Linked DNA regions of Homo sapiens. The protein of the gene in region 5 interacts with the protein of the main gene of each other region in a pairwise test. Each region holds a gene or a part of one and is shown on either strand. Other genes may lie near its edges. The genes, in order: FRMD6, ZBTB26, ZMYM5, FGF11, HMBOX1, FAM13C and GNL3L.

Region 1 (3,500 bases), on a different chromosome or scaffold from region 5:
TTACTTTGATCACAAAAGCATCCTATTTGCCAGTAAATATTTTTTGGAGCTTTTACCATGTTTTCCCCAGTCAGCATTTCTTAACGTATTTAATGATGACTGTATTTATTTCTGATCTCAAGAGATTGTAATGAGTGCTCTGTTAGTATTTCCTTTTGTGGGGAGTATAATAATTGTCGTGACATGTGCCTGTAAAAACATAACAGTAATGTAACATTCACTTCAAAAAAATCCCCAAAAAAAGATTTAAGGAAAGCATTCATTGCATTTCTTCTTGGAGAAGTTTAAAAAACGGAAAAGAAACCTTTGTTAAGCAAATTTTTTTCCAGAAGAGTATATATGCAAATACTTATAAAGGGCCTTAGAGTATTTGTAGTGTGTTCAGTTAAAAAATAATAAAAAGAACAGCAAAACACTGAAGCAGGATTGCTCCTCAGATTTTTCCTTATTTATGTCACGTGTGTAGCATCATTGTAGCAACATTAGTACAGACAACACATGTCTAGTTTCTATTCTAATACTTGTTCAGTGAAATATTTACCATTTTAGAGTGGAATGATTCAGACCTTTTTCTTCTCTGAATGAATCAAATGCTGTAAGCCTTAGGAAACGTTATTTTTATTGTCTGGATAGTCTGATTTGGGGTTCTGACCCCCTGCAACCTCAGTGAGGCAGCTATCAGATATTAGCTACAACCGCTTCCTTTTCAGTGAGGTGGGAGGGAGGAGCAGAAACAGAAGGGTTCCTGTCACCAGATGGAGAGAAGGATTTGGGTTCTGTTTACATGTCATTGGATTATTCCATCAAAATGTGAGTTCTGTTTTCTTTTATTTTTCTAGTGACAGAGCAGCAAGATACTATTATTACTGGCACCTGAGAAAACAAGTTCTTCATTCTCAGTGTGTGCTCCGAGAGGAGGCCTACTTCCTGCTGGCAGCCTTTGCCCTGCAGGCTGATCTTGGGAACTTCAAAAGGAATAAGCACTATGGAAAATACTTCGAGCCAGAGGCTTACTTCCCATCTTGGGTAAGCACTGTTTTCAAATTCGAAAGAGTGTTTTCTCTCGGGCATTTCTAGTTCGTAGTGTTGCTACTCATACTCTTTAAGAAATGGGAACACAGATGTTCTGTGGCCAAATTCTTTGTGATGCCCAGATATTTAATGCTTAAGAACGTGGTGCACATCATGTCTTCATGTACTTAGTCTGCTTATGGTGAGTGGGGTAGAGAATTGCCATCCATCCTGATAATACAGTGGAGCTTGGAATTTACCAGCCTCCTTTCAGCATTGACATGCCCTTGACCTTCTTGCCTACTCTTACCGAAGCAGTATTTTCTCCCTTTGAAGGCAGAAAAACATAACTCTTTAAAAAGTAAGATTATTCCTCGCTTTCCTTTGCTGCGAGAACAAGTATGTCAACTTCTGGCTCCGGCCTCCATGTCCTCCACTCTCGGGGAGGAACTAACCCCTTCTTTCAGCAAGAAAATGTGGGTTATTCCAACGTGAACTGTCTCAGCTGCGCTTTCTCCACTCCACCCTGTCTGTTTCTCTTCCCGTCCTTCCTCCATGTCTAGGCTGTATTTTCTGTCTCTCTTCTATATCATTAGCCCCTCCCCAAAGTAACTCTTCTTCAGTGAGAACATGCAAAACATGTTTGGTTCTCACCCACCCATCCTTGAGAAAGAAAGTGGGGAGGGAAAGAAGAGCTACTACTCTTGCCTTTCCTTCTCAGTAAAGCATCTTGAAGAGGTAGTGTGTATTTGATTTTTTCAGCTTCTTTACTTCCCACAAGTGTTCCTCAAGCCATTTCCATCTGCCTTCTTTCCCCATCAGTCCACTCATGGTGCTGCCTGTTAGGTTGCTTTATATCAATACAGTAAAGAAGTAAAAAATTAAATATGCACTACTTTTGCTTTATATTGACACCAGTTGCTTTATATTAACATATCCAGCAGACTCTTTTCACTAAATTTTGCTGCTGTACCTGACACTTAACTACTCACATCTTGGGAGATCTCATCCAAATTAATGCTTTTAACGATCACCTATGTGAAGGCAAGTCCCAAATCTGGTTTTTTCCCCTATATCCATAAGGTAGCTGTTTACCCATAGGCCGTTCAAACTCAAGATGTCCTAAATCAAATTCATTTTCTTGCCACCTCATTTCTACGTATTCCTACCTCTGAGTACGTGGGAGTCATACGGAACTCTGCCTTATCACCATTCCTTCTCCCTGTCCTGTCCCATCAACTGTAACACCTTGTAATGTCTGTGCTTGAATACCAATCACCCAGCTTAAGAAATAAAATTATCTTCTATTTTTATTGCCATTAGCCTTCCTAAATGTCCATTGCCTCCTCTCCCTGTCTTAGCTCCTGCTGTTTCTAGGTTCGTGTTCTCAGCAGCACTGTTGCAGAAACTTGTCCCTGCTTCGGTCTTTACTCCACAGCTTGCAGATGAGATGATTTTGCTTCTGACTTAAACTTTCAGGGCCTCCTCTGTCACCTGTGGAGTGAAGCTCAGGCTCCCATGCATAACCTAGAAACTCTCCAGATTATAGTCCCTGCCAGCCATTCCAGCTTCCTTTCTGGTTGTCCTGCACCTTGAACTTTAGGCTCTGGCAACATCCAGCCATTGGTGTGTCTCCATACTTACTGTGGTGTTTCATGCTTCAGGTCTTTCTTCTTGCAGTTCCTTTAGCCAGTGAAGCCCCTCTCTGTTTCACCTGGCTAACTCCTACTCATCCTCCGAGACTCAGCCCAGGTGTCGCTCCTTCTGGGCAGACCATCTAGGTGCCCAGTGCTCAAGAAGAACCTGGGAATAGTGTTTTACATCTTATTTTAAAATGATTTATTTCTTGCTCCCAGTAAACTGTTTCTTAGTGTGTTCTGAAAGACGGGCATAACCTTAACCTTTTCTATTTCATCAGCTCTTCATATTGAGGTACTCAGTAATTTTTTGTTGTGTGACTTAGAGTGCTTCATTTTTTTGGAGAGAAATCACAATGTCTGTCAAACTATTGCTGTCTGTAGCATGTTTGCATTCTCTGGTTGTCATCAGGTGCTCATTGAATATTGATTATTGAAATCCAGTTAGTATGCCAGGGCAACCAGTGTGCTGAGATATCAGTTTCCCCCACCCTTGGGATCACCAAAGCCATCTGCTTTAGTGCCCTTACAAATACTGTTTTCAGTGTGCTTTTGACCTGAAAAAAAGGTTGATAAATAACTGATTTAACTGATTACCATGTGAAAAGAACCTGGAAAGAAAAATCTGTGTAACTTGAGTTCTTAGCAGAACTTGACAACTGACTATTAATTCATCATATTTAATTCTCTGTAAAATATTCAATAGGAAGAAACAAAATGTCAATATAAAGACATTTTAAAACCAAAAAGTCTGTAATTTTTAAATTTTGATTATTTTAAGCACGACTCTTGCTCACATTGCATAATTCTTTCCATCTGTTAAGTTCCTTATGGAATCAGCTAAGACTTTAA
Region 2 (4,139 bases), on a different chromosome or scaffold from region 5:
AAACTTAACCAAACTAAATCTCAATTCAAGGTACTCAAAAATACCTGTTCTAGGCTATTTCCCTATCACTTGAAATGCATGATGCCTGCACTCATGCACTGTCTAAACTTCAATAAGCCAAAAAAATTTCTTATGGAGAATGGCTTGGAGAAAAGTACAAGGAAGCATTTTAGTATGTGATTACTCTAAACAGATCAAGACAGAATGGCATGGGCCTGAAGAGAGACAACAATAATATGGATGGAGAGGGGAAACAGATTTGAGAGACATTTCCAACAAAGAACTGATGGGCTTGGTGACCAATGTGGGGAAAGGGTCAAGATGACTCCAAGATATTTGGTTTCTGTAACTGGATATCTTTGATGAATGTCATTCAGCAAAGCAGGGAATATTGGAGGGCATGATCATGAGTCTGGTCTTGAGCCAGAGAAGCCTGCATGACATCAAGGTGAGGATTCATGAGCTGGATGGATATGAAGAAAAGATCTGATTACAGATGGTAAGTGATAAATGAAAGCATGAAAGTGGAAGAAATTAACCTAAATGGGCAGAGAGTGGAAACGGACTTAGGAAGAAAGAAATAAAAAACATATCAAACATAAATCCTTTACTTACCTTCTTCTCAACCTGGGTCTCTTTCCAAGCCTCTCCATTCTTATCAATGAGCCTCTCTTTGCTTAAATGTTTCCCACTCCTTTGGCTCCTATATTCAGTCACTGCATAGAGCAGTGGGTAAAACCATGGACTCTGGAGCCGTATTTCCTAGGATCAAAACCCTGCTCAACTACTTTCTGTGTAAACTCAAACCACTCTGCTTCAATATTCCCATCTATCAATAGTAATTTATTTCATAGGGTTGTTATGGAAAATAAATGATTTAATTTTTTAAAGAGCTTAGAACAGTGTCTGGTATGTACCCTATAAGCATGTGTTAGGTATACAAATAAAGCCTGTCAATTTTCTTTGTGAAATGCTTTAAATGTGTCCTATCCTTATTCCCATTTAACACCAAACCAGCTGAGGTACCTAATATTTCATAGAGTATCACCTCATCACTGTACTAAATTGCTTTTTAAAAGGTCACTAATGACCTCTTCATAAAGAAATGCAATACTCTCCCCTCCCCCAAGTCTCCAGATGCTCTGCATGAATTGATCCAGTGGTCTCTCCTCGAAATTCCCTTCTCTTGATTTCTGGGTCTTCTTGCTTGCTGTAACCCTGCACTCCTACACTTTATTGCCTACTGCTGACTACTACTAGCTCCAATTCCTCTTTCTGCTTCATAAATGCAAGCATTACCCTCCCCCCCCAAATTTCCTTATTTTTCAAAATTCTCTTCCTGATGCCAGCTATTGCCATGGTTTCCACTTCTATGCTGATAACTCAAACTTTTACCTCTAGCTACAATGTTTAGGCTGAGCTAAAGATTTGCATTTCCAACTCCATGCTGGACAGCTCTATGTGTCTGTCTCATTAGACCTTTAATTCAACATGTCCAAAAAATGAATTCATAATCTACACTAAGCTTATGGCTTTATTTCTGATAATGGCATTACCATCCTTCAGCTCAGAGGTCTAAAACCTAAGAATTAGATTTGGTCCCTCACACTTCTTCAGCATTCAGTTAATTATGGAGTCTTGACATAATCATCTCCAGTATATTTGTCTCCTTACCAATGACACCATTATAACTTATTTCAGGAATTTTTTGCCTCTCACTAGGCTGATCCCATTACCCCTTCAAAAGAATCTCCGATAAGCGTTCCTAACTTTTAGCTAAATGTCTAAATGCAGTTAATAGAAAGTCCCTTCTCTATGGGCTTTCTACAGAACAAAATGATTTCCTGCAGTGCAAATCTGACCATATCAATATTCTGTTCCGAACTCTTCAAAAAACTACCCATCTCCTTTAGGATTACACCATTCACCATCTGGACCTCGGTCGACTTTCCCAGTCTCATATCCATTCTGTGCATAGGAGTCCCCCCATTTCCTCCTCTTCCCACACAAGTTATGCTCAGTCATTTCTCCACAGTATTGCAACTGTCTTCCCTGAAAAACTCTTCAACACTTTACTCTCTCCAAGTACAATTCAGACATCACTTTCTTTCTAAAGCCTTCTCAGCAACGGCCCCTTGAGCAATTAACACATATGTGACTGATACATACATACATATATATACACATAGGAGTACTTATTTGTTCAGATCTGGCTCCCAAACTTAATCCCGAAAACTGGAACAATATCTTGCCAATCTCCAGTGTCTGGTATAGCGCCAGTAATATAAAAGGTGCTGCGACCAGTGGCCAAATAGGGGAAAACCCCAGCAAAAGGGTAACCTAGCACTCACAGTGGTTCTCAAAGACTGGCACTGAATGCCTGGTCTTGGGCTGGCTCCCGAGGCTCGTTTTCTTAGGGCCTCACCTCTGGCACTTCTTATAAGATGCCAGAGTCAGGCCCCCAAGCCAACTGCTGGGCCCTCAGCTGGGGTCCTATGAGGCGGTCCCAGGGGCATCCTCAGGCTCCCCACTCCAGTCACAGGGAAGGGAAAGGGGCGGGGCGCAGCGTGGGCCGGGCCAAGGGCTCCTCAAGTCCCCAGGGGCCTAGGCCAGCCTCTCGGCTCCCATCCCAGTGCAGGTCCCGGTTGATCCAGGGCCCCAGGGGGGTTCCATTTTGAGACACCCCGCACCCCAGCCCGCCGCTCCGGCCGTCTCCGCACTTACAGACCCGGGGGAAGGCCGCCGTCAGGATCCGGCACCGCCAGGAGCTCCGGCCCCTCGGGGCTCCGGGAAGGGGGAGGGGCAAGGAACCCGAGCCAAAGGGGGACCCAACGGAACCGGAAGGGCAGCCCTGGCCGGACAAAGACAACTTCCAGGTCCCATGGTCCTCTCCGCCAATCGGAAGGCTCGGAGGACAACAGGGGCCCCGAGAGGGAATTTCTGCGTTGTGGGCGGGGCGCAGACGGAGGGCACCGTACTCTGGGCACTAGCTTCACTGCCTACTACCCCGAGGTGCCTTAGCTCGTAAGCGTCTGTGGCTCAGGCCCTGTGCGCCTCGCAGGGACCCGCTGCTCGGGACCCCCGTCTCAGCGGCTCTTCTGTAGCTGGGCCTAGACGGTCCGCTGCCTCCTTGGGCCTGAAGGGCTCCTCTGCACTTAAACTTTGGTAAGTCTTTTTAGCCTAGGGGTGTAGACTCGTCGCGCGGGAGCCCGAAGAGCAGAAAGCTCTCCCCTCACTTTTGGATGTGTTTTTCAGGGTTCTTGCCTTGGAGTTCTTCCTAGGGCAAACTCTTGCACTCCCATGGCTTCCGTTACCTACTTCATGCTGACCATTCACAACCCAGGCAGCTACATGGACGAGATCTCCAGCTGTCCTGATGTGAAAGTACCTTTTAATGATCTCAAGTTCATCTCATCTCCTATCCAGACCGGAAAACTTGAGGATCCTTCTAGAGTTCTTTTCCTTGCCAATCCAGTTTACTGGTTTTTGACCATTCTTTTCGTTTTTGGTGGTGGTGAGGGGCTTTTTATTGAGGTAAAACATGCGTAATGTTTATTACTTTAATCATTTGTAAGTGTAAAACTTGATGGTCTTGAACTCTGGAGTTAAAGTGATCCACCCTCCTCAGCCTCCCAAAGTGCTGGGATTACATGTGTGAGCCACTGCTCCCAGCCTTTCCCTCTTTTTAATGTAGTTATTTACAACTATACATTTCACTTTGATCACTGTTTTCACTACAGCTCATAAGTTTTTGTATGTTGTGTTATTTTCATTCATTTCTAAGTATTTTCTAATTTCCCTTTTGATTTCTTCTTCTTTTTTTTTCTTTTTTTTGAGATGGAGTTTCGCTCTTGTTGCCCAGGCTGGAGTGCAATGGTGTGATCTCGGCTCACCGCAACCTCCGCCTCCTGGGTTCAAGCGGTTCTCCTGCCTCCGTCTCTAAAGTAGCTGGGATTACAGGCATGCGCCACCACACCGGGCTAATTTGATATTTAGAGATATGGAGACGTGGTTTCTCCGTGTTGGTCAGGCTGGTGTCGAACTCCCGACCTCAGGTGATCCACCCGCCTTGGCCTCCCAAAGTGCTGGGATTACAGGTGTGAGCCACCGTGCCTGACCTTGATTTCTTCTTTGACCCA
Region 3 (3,500 bases), on a different chromosome or scaffold from region 5:
AATATGCTTTTTAAAAATCTTTTCCCAGCTAGGCATGGTGGCTCATGCCTGTAATCCCAGCATGTTGGGAGGCCAAGGCGGGCAGATCACTTGAGGTCAGGAGTTCGATACCAGCCTGGCCAACGTGGTGAAACCCCGTCTCTACTAAAAATAAAAAAATTAGCTGGGCGTGGTGGCGGGCGCCTGTAATCCCAGCTACTTGGGAGGCTGAGGCAGGAGAATCGCTTGAACATGGGAGGCAGAGGTTGCAGTGAGCCGAGATTGTGCCACTGCACTCCAGCCTGAGTGACAGAGTGAGACTCTATCTCAGAAAAAAAAAAAAATCTTTTCCCTGGGTATATCTTCCTCTGAGATATGATTAGGGATTCTTTGCTTCTATTGCAGAAACTAGTTATCTCATTGCTTGCTATGCTAATCTGGTTCATATATCTTAGTTAATGAATTCTGGTTTTTCTTTTAGATTCGCCATGAAGTCAGCGTAAATAATGTAACACATAAACTGTGCAGTAACCATTGCTTTAATAAGTACAGATTGGCCAATGGTCTAATAATGAACTGCTGTGAACACTGTGGAGAGTACATGCCTAGTAAGAGTACTGGAAACAACATCCTGGTGATTGGAGGTCAGCAGAAGAGATTTTGCTGCCAAAGTTGTATTAACGAATATAAACAGGTAATTCTTTTTCATGAGCTTTAAATGATCAAATATATAGTAGCTTCACCCTTACATCTTACATGAACCGGATTTATCTTAGAATCTCATTTAATTCCATTTTGCCATTCTGTCATTGGTTTGTCCCATCTCAAATATTCAAGTCTAAGATTGTTGTAAGCTTGTTTTAAAAATTTTCTTTGGGCTGGGTGCAGTGACTCACTTGTGTAATTCCATCATTTTGGGAGGCTGAGGTGGGAGGATTGCTTGAGCTCAGGAGCTTGAGACCATCCTGGGCAGCATAGTGAGACGTAATCTCTACTAAAAATTTTTTAGAATTAGCCGCAGGCATGATGGCATGTGCCTGTAGTCTCAGCTACTTTGGAAGCTGAGGTGTAAGTATTGCTTGAACCTGGGAGATTGAGGCTACAGTGAACTATGATTGTACCACTGCACTCCAACTAGGCAACAGAGCGAAAGCCTGTCTCAAAAAAAAAAAAAAAGAAAGAAAATGATCAGGCACAGTGGCTAACACTTGTAATCCCAGCACTTTGGCCAAGGCAGGCAGATCACTTGGGGCCAGGATTTTGAAACCAGACTGGGCAACATGACAAAACCCCCTGTCTACTAAAAATACAAAAATTAGCCAGGCGAGTTGGTGTGTGCCTGTAATCCCAGCTACTTGGGAAGCTGAGGCATAGGAATCACTTGAACCTGGTAGGCAGAGGTTGCAAACCCGAGATCATGCCACTGCATTCCAGCCGGGGTGACAGAGCAAGACTCTGTCTCAAAAAAAAGAAAAAGGTTACTCCTGGATGAATTTAAAAGACTAATTTTTCTTCTGTACCATTTAGCACTCCCACTAAGCACTTGATAATTCTAGTTGCTCTACATTCTGACCAAAATTTGGAGCCAGGTGAGGTGCTTCACGCCTGTAATCCCTGCACTTTGGGAGGCCCAGGTGGGAGAATCAGCTGAGGCCAGGAGTTCAAGACCGGCCTGGTCAACATAGCCAGACCCTGTCTCTACAAAAAAAAAAAAATTAAAATGTGGTAGTTGTCTGTTTTGTCTATCAGGTCTTCAGCCCATTTTTTATTGAATTCTTTTTGTTACTGAGTTGTAGGAGTCCTTGGTATTATTCTGGATACATGTATTTTATAAAATAAATATATTTGGAAAAAAATTTTTTTTCTTCTGTTTTTTTTTTAAAAGAAAAAATAGGCTGGACGTGGTGGCTCACGCCTGTAATCCCAGCACTTTGGGAGGCCAAGGCGGATGGATCACCTAAGGTCAGGAGTTGGAGACCAGCCTGACCAACGTGGCGAAACCCCGTCTCTACTAAATACAAAAAAAATAAGCCGGGCATGGTGGCTGGCACCTGTAATCCCAGCTACTCTGGAGGCTGAGGCAGGAGAATCGCTTGAACCTGGGAGGTGGAGGTTGCAGTGAGCGGAGATTGCGCCATTGCGCTCCAGCCTGGGCAGCAAGAGCAACGCTCTGTCTCAAAAAAAAGAAAAAGGAAATACAGGTGGGTCTCAATATGTTGCCCAGGCTGGTCTCGAACTCCTGGGTTCAAGCAGTACTCCCACCTCAGCTTCCCAAAGTACTGGGATTATAGGCATGAGCCATTGTGCCTGGCCGGAAGATTTTCTTTCAGACTGATTTGTCTTTTCATTTTCTTAATGTTTTGTTTTGTTTTCCTAATATTACTTTTGAAAAGTACAAGATTTTAATTTTTATAAGTCCTATTTATTATTTGCTTCTCTTGTGATTAATAGTTTTTGTGTATTTAAGGAATCTTTGCCCACCAAAATTACAAAGATATTTTCCTACATTTCCTTCTAGAATCTTTTCAGTTTTAGCTTTTATTTTTTAGGCCTGTGATTCATTTTGAATTAATTTTGTATATGGTGTTAGATGTGGGTTAAAGAATTATCAACTTCCTGACTTTAAGACATTAAAATGCTGCAATAATCAAGGCAGTATGGTTTGGTATATAAACAAATGGGCTAACAGAGATCAGTGAAATAGAAGATAGTCCAGAAATAGAACCACATAGTAGATTTTTCAAGAAGGTACCAAATTATTCTGATGGGAAAAACAAGATTTTTTAACAAATTATGCTGAAATAATTTTTTGTTTGTGTGGAAATAAATGAGCCTTGACCCCTTTTCATTGCATACACAAAAATTAAGATAGATCATAATGTAAAACTGGAAATATTCTTAACCCCCATTTCACTGGATGAGAATTTAATTGGTTAGCTTCAAGGGAAAGTAACCCTGAATTGCTAGGCTTTTATCGAACAGGAGAAACAGTGGATACCCATAGTTGACTTTTCTGTTTATTTTTGCAAGAAAACCTTATTTATGTTAAATTATTTTTTCTTTACATATATTGCACCTAATATTTAAGAAAGCTTTTGGTTTATAGAAGAACACAATGAACATTAACAAATAGAAAGGTCCAGGCACGGTGGTACGTGCCTGTAATCCTAGCACTTTGGGAGGCCAAGATGGGAGGATGGCACTAGTCCAGGAGTTGGAGACCAACGTGGGCAACATAGTAAGACCCCATCTCTACAAAACAATTTTTTTAATTAGCCAGATATGGTGGTTGTACACTCGTAGTTCTAGCTCCTCAGGAGACTGAGGTGAGTGAGCTATGATTGCACCATTACACTCCACCCTGGGCAACAGAATGAGACTATCTTTAACAAAACGAAATTTAAAAAGACTTAATATTGTTAAATTGTCTTTTCAAAGACAGTTACATGACAAAAGTAACCTACTGACCTTCTAATTTGGAAATAAAAACTATATTAAGTCTTAATATTTTCCAAGCCTTT
Region 4 (4,134 bases), on a different chromosome or scaffold from region 5:
GCCAACATAGCAAGACCCTGTCACTATTTAAAAAAAAAAAAAAGAACTAGACTTTTAGGGGTCTTGCAATAAGATTCCTTCTCTCCACTGTACTCCCAGTCTCTCACTATCCCCTATCCTGGATGACTCTAGGGAAGTGAGTAATGACAAAATCTGGAGGAGGTGGGATAAGAAGTAGGGGCCCTAAAAGGCAGAAAGAGTTGGACATTCAAAGAACCTGGGGCTGTTTTGGGGGTGTGCAAGGAGTGGGGACTGGAGAGACCCTAGAGGAGCTGGTCTGGAATGGGCAGCGATGACAGGCCATCAGCAAAGCTGGAGGGAGGAGTCCCGGGCAAAATGTCTGTAGTTGAGGAAGGTTGTCATTCCCTCAAGGGACAAATTGAGGAAGGGGAGTCCCCAGTATTTCCCGGCCACTCAGCCTCATTGTCTCACCGAACTGTAGAGCAGTCCCTCAGCATTCATGGCCATGTAGTGACCCAGCTTGGCGCTCTGGATGGTGACCACACGGAGGCCCACAGGGATCAGGTTGAAGTGGGCTGCAGGTGGAGAGAGGGAGCATCAATACCCAGGCCTCTGACCCTCACCTGAGCTCCCCTCATCCCAGCTCCACTTTTTCCCTTAGAGGTCAGGAAGACGGATCAATGGCAACAGAAGCTGAAGAGGGAATAGGATTGTCATCTCCTGTCCCCATTCTCCCCCTTCCCACCCTGCAGCCAGCTTCCCCTCTCACTGAAGGAGCTGGTATCCTCTGGGGTGCCCTGGATGCTTCCGTCGGGATTCGCCTGGAGGTAGAAACCCTGGCGGCAGAACAGTTTGGTGACGATGCCTTTGAGCTGAGGCTCTGGAGAGAGAGACATTCATCTTTGAAAATGACATCTCCGTTCCCAGAAACATTCCTACACTTGGCAGGATTAGAGGGAAGAAAGGAGAATGAAAGGAAGGAAGAGGGTCCCAGGGCCCCAGCTCTCTTATCCTCCAAGCACGCTCTCTCCCACCTCTCTTTCACTCCTGGGAAAGCTGGTGTGGGTCCCTTCTGTTTCCTATAACCAGGAGCTTTCAGTGTAATTTATTGAAATTTATTTAAATGGCTTAATTCCTACCCTACAGCTCAACCAGAAGGGGGAAGGAGTGGGGGAGGAGGGAGGGGAGAGATATATCAAAAGGCAGGGACAGAGGGAGACCAGCAGGGGTACTGAAGGGGCAGCGTGTTTGCGAAGGTGGGGGATCTTGGCAGCAGCAAATTGACCACAGGGTAGGGGCTCTCCCTCAGGAGTGGGGGTGGGACTGGGCCTGACGCTGACTCAGCACCTGCTGCGGCTGCCGCTAGCTTGGCGAGAGCCTTGCCTTGGCCCAGCGCCGGCCTGTCTGACACTGACCCATCTGTCTGTCTGTCTGTCTGTCTGTCAGTCCGCTGGCTCCCGGGGGCCCAGTTCTCCCTGAGGCTCAGCCTCTCCCCTTCGGCCAGGTAACTCGCCTGGGGTAAGGGGGACCTTACCAAGGATATGGGGGGTGGGAGCTGAGGAGATGGAGAGGCAGGCTGAGTCACGTGGGGGCCCGGTCCTACTCAGAGGGTGGGCTGCGGATTGTACCACTATGGGCAGCCGGTGGCGCGGGGAGGAGGGCGCGAGGTGGCTACCCTTAGGGGAGCTGGGAGCGGGCGGGAGCAGGGCCAGAGGGACTCCCTGACTGTCGTACATGGACGGGGACCAATTCTAACTCTCACAACTCTCCTCCCCCATCGCTTGCTCTCTGCCGACTTCCCTGTCCCCCCTTGTAGGTGGTACGACCCCCGAGTCGGCGCCCATCTCTAGCCGTGAACTGTGTCTGAGTTCCTGCCAGCGTAGGGTCCCCTGAGCCTACGGGACCCGATTTCGGAGTGGCGCGGGGGTTATGGGAGGGGTGCCCAGCTCCGTTCTTGAAGCGCAGGTCACAGGAGGAGGGCGCATAGAGGGCTGGCTGGCGAGGTAGCTGCAAGGACACCCGAGGGAGAGCTGGGGAGATTGGCTCGGAGCCAGCAGAGCTCGACCAGGAGGAACCGAGCCCAGGCGTGGAGGAGCGGGAGAACCGGGGCAGGCGGGGGCTGGGGGGGGGCGTGCGGCTGGAGCTGCAGAAATCCTTGGGGTGACCCAGGCATCTGGAAACCCCCGGGCCCCTCCGCTCCAGATTGAAAGAATCGCGAGAACCGGCACGTAGGCGGAGGACGATGGGGGTGGGGACTGCTGTGTTGGGAAGGGGGGACGAGCAGGAACTACGAGGCTTTCGGGGCGCCAGGCAGCCCCTCAAGCCTTCCCCTTGACCTCGAAAATAAGGAGACTCCGGGTTATGGACAAAAGAGAAGGGAAACTGAGGCACAGTCTGGCAGGGACTTTGTCGTCCTGGCCCACCCCCTTCCACTTTCGGGGAGCCCCTCAGCCGGGCCCTATTCTTCAGAGTCCCTGGCCTCAATCTCCCAGGCAGAGAAACCTCTGGCCGGGAGACCCCGCCCCAGCCGCACTCACCCGGGCCGCGGTCCGGCCGCGCGGGCCGCCCCCCGCACAGTCGCACCTTGGACAGCAGGATGAGGAGCTGCTTCTGGCAAAGGGACTTGGTGCCGCGGGGACACACGCGCCGCTGCGCCGACACCGGCCGGCTGCCCCCGGGCTCGCGGACCTCCCGCTTCTGCCGGATCAGGCTACTGGCCAGCGCCGCCATAGCGCCCCGGGAGGAGACACCCCCAAACCGGCAGGCGCCCGGAGCGCGCTGGGCTCCCCCAGAGGAGCCCGCTCACTAGGGCATGCTCTTGACGCTCAGGCCCCGACTCGCTGCCCCACCCACAGGACCTGAGGATAAGCCCCAGACCCCCCCCCTCACGTACCCCCCTCCACAGCAGCCAGTTACCACCCGTGGGCCCAGTGCTGGCTCCACCAGATCCAGCAGCCTATGTACTCCTCAGTGGATCCCACCCTCGAGTTTTGCCTCCTATTGAAAACGTCCCCTTTCCCTCCTCTCCAGTGTCTGTCCTCACTTCACCTATCCCAAAGCCAAGACCCACTAAATTTCCAAGACGTGGTTTAAATATCTTCAGGCACCTTTCCACTGTATTTTGGGGCACACTCCTGCCAAATCCACTCTTGTAATCTACAGGGTGTGGGACTTTAGCTTTGGGAATATTCGCTCATCCCACCCCTACTGGGGCACTGCCAATGTCAGGAAGGAACCCAACCTTGGTGTTTTTTCCTTTGCTACACTCTAAATGGAGGGGATCCCCCACTTTTTTCACTGAAATCCCCCCAAAATATGTCTCAGAATATCCAGGTTGCCCAGGTTCAGTAAGACAGGGCTCCCAGACCCTCTGGCTGGATAATACCTTTTTCACCAAGTCCCCCCCATGTCTAGTAGCATAGAATTCTAGCGGCCAAGACCCTTTCTTCACCTTCACACCCTCCGCTCCTTTTGAAGTCACCTCCAAATCCACCCTTCCTAGTGGATACACCAGGTAGTTGACTGGAGGGCCTTCCGCCACCTCAAAATGAGGAGCATCCGTGTTTGTTTTTGTTTTTGTTTTTTTCTCCCCTGGCTGCCCCTTAAATTTTCTTGGGGACAGCTGGTGCTGTTTAGATCCCACGCCCTCCAATCTAACCAGCCCCCCAAGAGAGGAGTGCACCCACGTTGTCACCAGTCCCCAGATGTGAACAGGCCCCCTACAAGTCAGAGCGGATCACAGCTTCCTGCTACAGGGCTTCCTCGTCCTCCCCGGGATTGCCTATAGCACCCCCTCTTCCTTTTCCCGACGCCCCTCAACCTGTCCTGTCCTGTTGATCCGGCGACGGGTGGCGCTGGCTTCGGCTCCAGGCTCCTCCCTCCCTGTCCCCCGCAAACGGAGCTTCCCCCCACGCCCGGCTAGGCGTCCCGGACCCTCGGGAAGGAGTGAGGGTGTCTCTGCAGAGCTCCCCGGTCCGGCGAAGTCAGAGCACTGGGCCGGTGGCTGGACCAGGCAGAGCGGCGGCAGCGGCAGCGGCTGTGGGAAGCTGAGGCGGCGGCGGCGGCGGCGACAGCAGTTCCCCCTCCTCGGAGAGCCGGCCCGGGGGCGGGGCAGGGGGCGGAGACGCTGGGAAATAGGAGGGTGAAGCCGGGCAGGAGGAACCCCGGGGTTCC
Region 5 (3,500 bases):
GAGGACTATACCAATTAGAATTACCTGATATACTTATGAAGGATATATATTCCTGGGCCCATCTCAGATTTTAGGAATCTGGGGGTAGAACTCAGGAAACAAAATATATATATATATATATATTTTTTTTTTTTTTTTTTGAGACGGAATCTTGCTCTGTAGCCCAGGCTGGAGTGCAGTGGCGCAATCTCAGCTCACTGCAACCTCTGCCTCCCAGTTCCCAGTTCAAGCAATTCTCCTGCCTTAGCCTCCCGAGTAGCTGGGATTACAGGCGCGCCATGATGCCCAGCTAATGTTTTAGTATTTTTAATAGAAACAGGGTTTCACCATGTTGGCCAGGCTGGTCTTGAACTCCTGATCTCATGATCCGCCCACCTCAGCCTCCCAAAGTGCTGGGATTACAGGTGTGAGCCACTGCGCCCAGCCAGAAACTAAAATTTTAATACTTTTTCCAGGCAATTCTTCAACACAAAAGTTGAGATCACTGTTTCCTTCTGTTGTAGCCTAAGTGCTTAGAACTCTGTGACTCCCCAACTATTTATCTCCTGTGGCTTTGTAATCTGACTCCAATCTTCTAGGTTCCTTAGTTGCCTATCCTTGACTTGTACTTATTTCTAAAAATCTTGGCCCTGGTTTGGTAATATAATAAAGACTTGGATATGGAAATTTTAGCTCTGAAGTCCATATAAACTCCAATACTGACATAGGAATAAAAAGCTCCAGTTCCTTTCCCTGAAATCATGGAGCTTTTGTTAAATATCACCTATGGTGTTGACTGGACATTGGATTGACCCAGTATGTCAATTCTTTTGTTGCCAGATCTGCAGAGAACAAGATGCTCACTACTACAGACTCAACTATTTGAATTCCTGCTTATTGTCTCTAAAGAAAGAAGGCACAAATTTTCTTGTCAGGGATGAATGACATTTGCTAAGAGAACAGTTGTCACTATATAGATAGAGGGTGCCTATGAGAATGTTCCAGTTCCTAGAGTAGTGATGAAATGAGTTCTCCTAAGATGTCTCTAGATCTTAATGATGGGACAAAAGAATGTCTACTTGATATGAATAAGAGCTTCTTTATTCAATAAGGGATAGTCTTTGATAGCAGCAATGAGGATCCTGATACAATGGCTTCTAGATACTTTCATGCTTAGTAGGTTAGTGATCCAAACTGTAGAGATAGTACGTTCATGTATCCAGGGCTACCTCTCATTCTCCTTCCTTAATCCTAGCTAGTTCTTATAGTCCTACTTTGTCATCTTTCTGGTTTGCCTGAGGTGACTAGAATAAAAAGCAAATCTTAAATTATAGGAGTCTTTTGCTATTTCCAGCAAACTGATCCTTGCAGAAAAGGATTAAATCCAACCTATCTTTGTATCCCACAAAGTACCTCATCACGCACTGCTAGACTTGACATGTTTAACTGAGTGCCTTGTTCAACACCAACAAGAGAACCCTCCTCATAAAAAGCATCTAAAAGCTTAAGCCTCATATAAAAGGTGCTTTCCACGCTACCTCCCACCAAGGTCACGGGATAAGGATAGACATTTAAGTCATGGTGGTCATGCAATGCATTCAGATTTCTCTCTTGCCAACTGAACTAAAAGAAACACACTGTCACCATCAACAGGTAAACTCTAGTTGAAAGAACAGTTCAAGTCAACACCATGGCAAATCAAATCCACTTACCAGTCAGAGAAGCAGAGACTATGAAAAACCAGGGCAATACAAACAGAACTGGAAGGGAGAAGTGAGAAAGGGAGATGAAGCAGACATGGAAGGAGATGCTGAGACAAGAAACCATTTATCACCAGAACGAGAGCTTGAGAGACTAGCTTCTCAGATTCCTAACGTTTCTCCCATTCACACAAGGTCTAGTCACTCTTCTTCAACCCAAAACAGCTGAATCCCTACAACGCCTGTCCTTGAAGCCAAATGATCCCTAATTCAAGCATTATTTTTTAGTACGTACACCAAGACAAATAGAAAGCTAGAAACATAAATCCAAGGAGGAAAAAATAATTCTACCAGGAAAAAACTGAAATCACAGGTAGCCAAAAAGCTTTGTAAATATGAATCTTATTTATCAGGAAGTACCATCAATATTTGTCATATTCCTGCTAATGAAACAAATTAAACTTTGTCTTTTTTTAATAGAAATTATCACAGTATTGACAAATGAAAAATTGTCTCAAACCCAGAGAAGACAAAAATCAGGTGATCTACCTTTATTTGTTAATACATTTGAAAATATTTTGTTAGCCTGTTTAAAGCAGACTTCCGTTGTTGTCTGTAATAATCGATAGTATATTGGATTAACAGCCTCATCTTTTAAGACAGGCTTTATAATCATATGGCTGATTAAGGGGCAGCAAAGTATAACCAACCCTGTAACTATCCTTTAACTTGTACCTAACAAAAATAGTAACCATAACCTCCCCTTTTATTCTGTAAAGATCCTTTTTCTGAAAATATCTTTGAACTAACTTCCTTTAAAGCTAGTTCCCTTGCAACAAGTACAAAATAAAACTATGACATATGCTGACAATCAATTAATCTGACAAGTTTGCATTAACACTGTCAAAACCAAACTAATGTCAAAATAGCTGTAATTTTGGTTATCTAACACAGATTCTAACATATCCTCTCTAGCAACAAACATACCATGTAAGCCTTGAATTTATTTAAAATTTAAATCTTTTTTTGTTTGTTTGTTTGAGATAGAGTCTCGCTCTGTTGCCCAATCTGGTGTGCAGTGGCGCCACCTTGGCTCACTGCAACCTCCGCCTCCCAGGTTCAAGTGATTCTCCTGCCTCAGCCTCCTGAGTAGCTGGGAGTACAGGTGTGTGCCACCACGCCCGGCTATATTTTTGTATTTTTAGTAGAGGCAAAGTTTCACCATGTTGGTCAGGCTGGTCTTGAACTCCTGACCTCATGATCCATCTGCCTTGGCCTCCCAAAGTGCCGGGATTACCGGCATGAGCCACCACGCCCAGCCTCATTTAAATCTTACACATTTTATTTGTGGACAATTTCAATGTTATCGTTAACTTTTACCAGAAAATTTTAATGGGTCCTAATATTATAATTCCTCATTTAAAAAAAAAAAACTAGCCGACCAGTGGCTTACGCCTGTAATCCCAGCACTTTGGGAGGCCAAGGCGGGTGGATCACCTGAGGGGGGATTCGAGACCAGCATGACCAACATGGAGAAACCCCGTCTCTATTAAAACTACAAAATTAGCCGGGCATGGTGGCGCATGCCCATAATCCCAGCTACTCAGGAAGGCTGAGGCAGGAGAATCACTTGAACCTGGGTGGCAGAAGTTGCGGTGAGATGACATCGCGCCATTGTACTCCAGCCTGGGTAACAAGAGCGAAACTCCATCTCAAAAAAAAGAAAAAAAAAAAAAACCTAGCCAATATTCAGATTCTCATAACAAAAAAAAAAATTGGTATGTTTGCAATGTCAGGTTCATCTAAAAAATAAACTTTTAA
Region 6 (3,500 bases), on a different chromosome or scaffold from region 5:
TGGCAGAGGAAAATAAACTTTACTTTATATCATGGGTGAAAGTGATCATAACATTTCCTGAACCTCAAATAGTTTTGGCCACATCTTGCTTGCTGATGAGGACCTCTAATAGTCTCAGTTTGGCTTTTATGTGCTTATATTCATAATACTCATCTGCCATTGGTATCCTATCTTCCTTTTGTGGACTTCTGCAAAACAAAAATACATTTGTTAGTTCACAATGAATCAAGTCATTATTTAAACATTCTTTTATAATTCATACATGAGAAAGTATACTGTAACGGCCTCCACTTGGTTTTTGCATCATGTCTTCTTTTCCTTCCCTTTCACCTTCATTCACTCCTTCTTCCATGTGTTACTAAGTTTCTAAATAATAGTAACCTTTGAAAACTTGAATGTCATAAGTGTTTTGCAAATATGTGGTCTAGTGCTTAGACTTACAACAAAGGGGTCAGTGAAAAGATCTAAGGAGAAGCAAACAAACAAGAAACAGAACTTTCAAGGCATTCTTTGTCCAGTCATTCTTCCATTATTTGCCACACCCCTACAGCTGTACAAAATGATCAGCCCTAATACAGTTGTTAAAAATATTAACCTGAAAATACTACAGGAATTTCATTATAAAAATAACATAAACCTATGGTAACAAGAAAAGCATTTAGGGTCTGTCTTACAAACTTGAAACGTTTCCAGATTTTCTTGTAATTATAATACCTATCTCTGCTAATATATAGTAGAACCACTGAGCTGTTCCTTGATTGAAGTAATTGACAAGAGTCTAAATTGTGGTGGTTCTCTTCTGTACACTAATTCTACTAAGGCTAGACATGTAACAATGCATAGATTTTTATACATATGCAGCATACTCTTGCTGTTTACTTGGAAGAATAACTTGGTAATATCAGGAGTTAAAACCATTTGCCTTCCCACAAAAATATGTTGTCAGGAAACGTTTTCTAAAGGGAAAAATTGCGACAGGGTCTCAGAAGGCTCTTGTTTTCTTGGTTAATAAGATAGCCAATCGTTTTGAAAACATTTCCACCCACGACTTTGAAATTCAAGGGGTAGAGGACACAGATATAGTCACCACAATTACAACTGAATATAACCACAAGTATTCTCTAATGTTAGTATGGCTGAAACCAGGTAAATAGCATATATTTAATGTTTTATCTTTAGCTCCCTTCTATTTTTCCCAGTAGTGATAAAGAGATATTTCTATCTCTTACCAAATAAAAAACAAGCTAATCTATACAAATTAAGAATATAGTATCTACTTGTATTTCAACACTATTTATTGCCCTGCAATTTCTAGTACAGAACTCAGAACAGTATACAAATCCATAGACAGCATTCTTCTTAACTGTTGTCTAAATTATATAACATATATCTTTGCCTCCATTCTGTGTTATGAGTCAAACTTATCATGGCTGGATGTCTGAATACCACCTTAATTTGTATAAATAGATCTAAGTAAAGAAATTGTCTAATTATTACAGAGAAACATTAATAATCAATTATGTAATTTTCCGTAGTTTTGCATATTCCATTTTGGCTAATAAGAGTGCTTTGAGGCCGGGCACAGTGGCTCACGCCTGTAATCCCAGCACTTTGAGAGGCCGAGGCGGGCGGATCACAAGGTCAGGAGATTGAGACCATCCTGGCTAACATGGTGAAACCCTGTCTCTACTAAAAATATAAAAACTTAGCCACGCGTGGTGGCGTACGCCTGTAGTCCCAGCTACTTGGGAGGCTGAGGCAGGAGAATGGCGTGAACCCAGGAGGCGGAGCTTGCAGTGAGCCGAGATCGCGTCACTGCACTCCAGCCCAGGTGACAGAGTGAGACTCCGTCTCAAAAGAAAAAAAAAAAAAAAAAAAAAAGAGTGCTTTGACAAGAATGAAAAGTTTTGCCAAGTCTTTCCTGAAGGAGTTTCTCCATTATATAAAACATACTAAAGTGCTTAGCACACTTCCAGGCTAATAATTATTAATAATAATGTAATATCTGCATGATTCTCATGCCTCTTGTATGGCAAATATTACCAAGAACATTTATAGTGCCTTAAACATTTTAGTAATCCATTTGCATGGTTATTTTAACTTATGGATGCTTAGGCCTTCCCAATAAAATGTCTTAGATAAACAAAATTAAGGTCCATATTTCCTAGCCATTCAACTGTTTGATTTTAGTTGTAAAAGATCATCACTTGTGCATTTAGTTGAAATATATCATCACAAGGGGGCATAAAACTTCATAGACAAATACAGACTTATCTGAAGTGGGTTTAAGACTCATAGGTGCAGTGGAACACTATACATAGAACATAACTAACTTCCCTGTATGTATGACAAAAAGCACACCAAGTGACACTGCAGATCCAGTAGGCAGGACTAGTAGCACACTGGGAAGTTCTCAAACCCCTTACGATAGATTCCTGAGTTCAAATTGCTAAAAAATATAAATTTATTCAGGGAACTCAAATTTATGAAAAGAGTGTACGCACATCTTAAAGTGTCATTTCTCATATGTAATGACTGTTTAGATTTAGAATATGTGATAACATCTCCACAAATATTTCCCTGAATGAAAAATTCCCATAGAATACCTTTAATCCAAAAGAGGCAGAGATCAGGAACTTTATAGTGCAAGTCACATATTTACCCAAAGTATAATAGGAGCAGACAGTCCAGACAGACAAAGTTACTACTCCAAGGAATATTTTACAAGGAAAGTTACATGAACATTTTATAAAAGAAAAAAGTATGGAAAAGGAAAAAAATAACAAATGCTTTATATTCTAAATTTATGAGCCACATAACATTTCTCACTAGATTACTTAACATCACCAAAAAGGTAAGTTGGACTTGTAGCAATCAACTGGAAAGGAAGATTGTAAGTAGAAAATAAGTTGTTACATCTGTATTGGCTGAATGCAAAAAGCTTTTCACTCAATAGGTCCAGTCCTAAAGAATATCCCTGGTAGGCTAAAATGGAAAACCTGCCAGGGACTAAGAGGTAAGTAGACCACGCATGAGAGTTTCAAGGTGCTTTTGGAAAATAGTCCCTTTCCATCAGGACAACCCTCAACCTGCTGAACTGAAAAGTCAAATACAATACCTAAATGGAGAGGAATACAGAGGAGCCCATGTAGCACTGATGAGTTTAATGATGAGTTTATGAGTTGAATAATGAGTTTAATCTCATTTCATCTACTTAATAACTTGTGGCTTTGGGAAAGTTACACTCTTCATTTATTTATTTTTGTAAAGATTGATATCCCACATGACAGCTGTAGCTTCCCAAAGTATCCCAGGAGTCCAACCATTTCAGCTCATAAAATGGGAACTGAGGTTCAAGATAGCTAAGCAATTTATCTCTCTTCCAAATTAGATCAATAACCTTATCTCTTGATTATATATGTAATTTTGTTGATGATACACCAAAAATTGGAGGAAACTAATAGAGTGTATAATGAGACTTGGGTTGACACAGAAAAATA
Region 7 (3,500 bases), on a different chromosome or scaffold from region 5:
CCCACTCACAATCAGCCAGGCAGAGGTCCTCAATGCAAGGCCTCAGTGGCACAATCCAACAGAAGGTGGACATCGAGAAATGTCTAAGAAACAGAGAACAACCTGTCTGGGTGTATCATTCCATGGATGGGGATGGAGGTCATCTCCAGATGCCAGTCTCTCTGTGCAGCTGTCTACCTGAGGTGTGTATTTTGCTGTTTGTGCATCTGTCAGCCATTCTCAGCCTGTGGATGTCTTTGTGTTTCCCCTCACTGGGCCTCATTCTCACCGTTCTCTTTCTGTATGTGCTCAATTTACATGTGTGTACTATTGTCTCAAGCATATGCTTGTTTCAACCCGAGAAAGCTGATTGCCTAAAGAAAAAAAAGGTATATGTCTAAGTATACCTCTCGTGCATGAAGCCTCTGCACACCTCTCTCCCCCCTCCCTCTCTCTAGGTCATTCTCATTCTAAATTATCACCATGCATGGAAGTCTCTACACATCTCTCTCTCTCTCTCTCTCTCTCTCTCTCGGTCATTCCCATTCTCAGTATCACCACTTTTTCCTTTTCTTGTATCTCTCCCACTCAGTCTCTTTCTCTATCTTATCTTTGTTTCTCTCTGTGTCTCTGTATCTAAGCACCTCTTTCTCTGCCAATTTGTCTGTCTCTCATTCTGGCCATTGTTCTTTTCTCTCTGATTCTCTCCACCCCACCAATCCTGCCTCTATTTGTAATTCCCTCCATGCCAACTCCTGTCAGCCTCTGTCCATGCTCCTCATCTCTGTGGGCTGGTCACTTCATGGATGCCTCTCTGTATGTGTCTCACGGTGTCTCTTCTACTCTCTCCCTGTCTGCGCCTCCTTAACCTCCTCTCTGTATGTCTCTATTTCTCTCTGTACAGGTACACATACCTGCCTCATAGTGACATGTCTGGTATTTGTGTCCCTCTGTAACTCTAGGTATGTGATTATGTTCGAGGGTCAAAGTGTATGTGGGCACATGCGTGTCTTCTTTTTTTTGAGACGGAGTCTCGCTCTGTTGCCCAGGCTGGATCTCAACAGTGGCACGATCTCAACTCACTGTAACCTCAACTCACTGTAACCTCCACCTCCCAGATTTAAGCGATTCTCCTGCCTCGGCCTCCCGAGTACCTGGGATTACAAATGCCCGCCACCACACACATCTAATTTTTGTATTTTTAGTAGACATGGGGTTTCGCCATGTTGGCCATGCTGGTCTCAAACTCCTGACCTCAAGTGATCTGTGCGCCTCAGCCTCCCAAAGTGCTGGGGCTACAGGCATGAATGAGCTGCTACATCCAGCCCTCCTTGTGGTTCTATGCGCGTTGGGGGAGCAGCGTTGGGGTGGGTGTGTGTGGGAAGGGCTTGGTCTACATGCATTTTGACTGTGGTTCTGTCTCGCTAGATGTGCCTCCTCTGGATCTCTGGGTCTGTAGCGTGGGTCTGTGTATGTGTTTGTGGATCTGTATGTGTACTTAAGAGCTATGTGTATGTGTTCCTCTGTATCTACAGCCTTGTCCAGTCTGCTTCCATGTATGTCTCTCTCTGAATCTGTCTCTATCCCTGTAGTATGTTTTTCTCTCTCATTCTTTGAGAAAACATGTCTGCCTCTCTACATACATGGGTTATCTCTACCCTTCCTATGTCTCCCTCGGCAGATCTCTGTATGCATGTCTGTTTCTATGTCCCTTTTGGTGTTTCTGATTGTATCTCCCTCTTTACATGCCTCCATCATGTAAATCTGTCTCCTCTTTCCATTCCCCACCAATCCTGCCATCTGGCTTCCCAGTGCGTTCTCTGTGTCTTCTTCTGTATCTATCCTGGTATGCATACCTATACCTTCTCAGTGTCTAGCTCTCTCTCCAATGTCTTTCTCACGTGGCTTCACATTCTTTCTCTGGTGATCTATCTCTGCCTCTCTCAATTTCCCTACTCCATTCCCATCATCCCTCCCTCAGAAACTTGTGCTCCAGAAAGGCCCAGGTTTTGATCCTCAGCTCTGCCTTGTCTTGCACAGGGCTGGGCTCCAAAAGTCCCTTTGCCCTTCTCTGAGCCTCACTCAGAATTCTCATCCGTAAAAGGTAGACGGTCACCCCATCCTCCCATAGCTCTGATAGGATGAGATGGTACCAAGTCCAAGCCTGGCACCCTGTATTTGCTCCATGAATCTAATACTCAATACGCAGTGATGCCCACCCATCCAAGTTACAAATCACGAAACCCTTCTCCTGAACCACTCCTCTCTCCCCGCAAAAGACAATGAAGCTCCCAGGATCCTTTCCCCCAGCGAAGTGTCCGCTCAAGAAAGAAGCCTGAGCCCCATGACCACACAGCAGGTCTTACCCACAACACCCACACGAATGTGGGTGCGCACTTCACCAAGGCGGCAATAGTTCCCCAGAACCCTCATGAGGTTTTCAGCTCCAAAGCAGGCTTTGCTTTTCAGCAGTGACTCAGAGGCCTGATCTACTGGCACACTGCAACGATTCTGGAAAAAAAAATTGAATATCACAGAAGAGACATCAGGTGGCAGATGAGGTCTGAGCCCAGATTTCCAACTTTCAGGGCCTCCCTATGATCACTGAGCTCCTCAGCCTGAAACGGAAGGCTTCTCACACAGATCTTGAACACGTGTCATTTCCCCATTCCCCTCCACTGTCTTTGTGTCTCCAGTCTCCTCTGCCCCTGCGTCTGCTTCGACACATGTCACTTGCCTCCCTCGGCAGTGGCAGGATGGCATCCTGGCTCTAAATAGGCCAGGTTTGAGCTCCAGGTCTACTTCTCACAGGCCTATGTCCAGCAAAGCCTGCTTCCCTTCTCCAGGCCTCAGTGCCCTGTGTGCACAACAGGGATGCCCACCCTCCCTGCCTGCGCAGGGATGAGAGGGAGCCTGGCCCACAGCCTACCCTCCCTCAATTCCTCACACAGGACAAAGCCATCCCAACCTTTACTCCTGATGCCACTTCCTCTGCCCAGAATTCCCTCCCTCCTCTTCCCTTACTTTTTTTCTTTGAGACAGAGTCTTACTCTGTCACCCAGGCAGGAGTGTGGTGGCACAACCTTGGCTCACTGCAACTTCCACCTCCTGGGTTCAAACGATTCTCATGCCTCAACATCCCAAGTAGCTGGGACTACAGGCATGCACCACCACACCCGGCTAACTTTTGTATTTTTAGTAAAGACAGAGTTTCGCCATGTTGGTCAGGCTGGTCTCAAACTCCTGGCATCAAGCAATCTGCCCACCTTGGCCTCCCAAAGTGCTGGGATTACGGGCATGAGCCACCACGCCCAGCCACAGCATTGTTTCCAATATCACAAAATTGGAATTAGCCTATATATCCATCAATAAGAAACAGGTTAAAAAGCTGTAGCCTTAAAGTGGAATACAAATGAAATACAGCTGTTAGAAAAGGTGGCTTCTGGCCGGGTGCTGTGGCTCATTCCTGTAATCCAGCACTTTGGGAGGCCAAGGCAGGCGGATCACTTGAGGTCACGAGT

What was found.
Region 1: the proteins of HMBOX1 (region 5) and FRMD6 interact in binary tests that used the Homo sapiens proteins (3 or more experiments, as listed by UniProt).
Region 2: the proteins of HMBOX1 (region 5) and ZBTB26 interact in binary tests that used the Homo sapiens proteins (3 or more experiments, as listed by UniProt).
Region 3: the proteins of HMBOX1 (region 5) and ZMYM5 interact in binary tests that used the Homo sapiens proteins (3 or more experiments, as listed by UniProt).
Region 4: the proteins of HMBOX1 (region 5) and FGF11 interact in binary tests that used the Homo sapiens proteins (3 or more experiments, as listed by UniProt).
Region 6: the proteins of HMBOX1 (region 5) and FAM13C interact in binary tests that used the Homo sapiens proteins (3 or more experiments, as listed by UniProt).
Region 7: the proteins of HMBOX1 (region 5) and GNL3L interact in binary tests that used the Homo sapiens proteins (3 or more experiments, as listed by UniProt).

What each region holds. Positions count from the first base shown.
Region 1 is NC_000014.9:51,703,910-51,707,409, forward strand, and holds part of FRMD6 (FERM domain-containing protein 6), read left to right. Parts: intron 1-839; coding exon 840-1,026; intron 1,027-3,500.
Region 2 is NC_000009.12:122,928,713-122,932,851, forward strand, and holds the start of ZBTB26 (zinc finger and BTB domain-containing protein 26), read right to left. Parts: upstream 2,801-4,139; 5' UTR 2,725-2,800; intron 2,554-2,724; exon of another isoform or gene 2,352-2,553; intron 1-2,351. UniProt on the Homo sapiens protein: May be involved in transcriptional regulation.
Region 3 is NC_000013.11:19,832,650-19,836,149, reverse strand, and holds part of ZMYM5 (zinc finger MYM-type protein 5), read left to right. Parts: intron 1-460; coding exon 461-673; intron 674-3,500. UniProt on the Homo sapiens protein: Functions as a transcriptional regulator.
Region 4 is NC_000017.11:7,438,178-7,442,311, reverse strand, and holds the start of FGF11 (fibroblast growth factor 11), read right to left. Parts: upstream 2,801-4,134; 5' UTR 2,692-2,800; coding exon 2,499-2,691; intron 1,545-2,498; exon of another isoform or gene 1,496-1,544; intron 862-1,495; exon of another isoform or gene 858-861; coding exon of another isoform or gene 842-857; coding exon 731-841; intron 537-730; coding exon 433-536; intron 1-432.
Region 5 is NC_000008.11:28,896,895-28,900,394, reverse strand, and holds part of HMBOX1 (homeobox-containing protein 1), read right to left. Parts: intron 1-3,500. UniProt on the Homo sapiens protein: Binds directly to 5'-TTAGGG-3' repeats in telomeric DNA. Associates with the telomerase complex at sites of active telomere processing and positively regulates telomere elongation.
Region 6 is NC_000010.11:59,247,550-59,251,049, forward strand, and holds part of FAM13C (protein FAM13C), read right to left. Parts: intron 222-3,500; exon of another isoform or gene 189-221; coding exon 65-188; 3' UTR 1-64.
Region 7 is NC_000023.11:54,547,219-54,550,718, reverse strand, and holds part of GNL3L (guanine nucleotide-binding protein-like 3-like protein), read right to left. Parts: intron 2,491-3,500; coding exon 2,346-2,490; intron 1-2,345.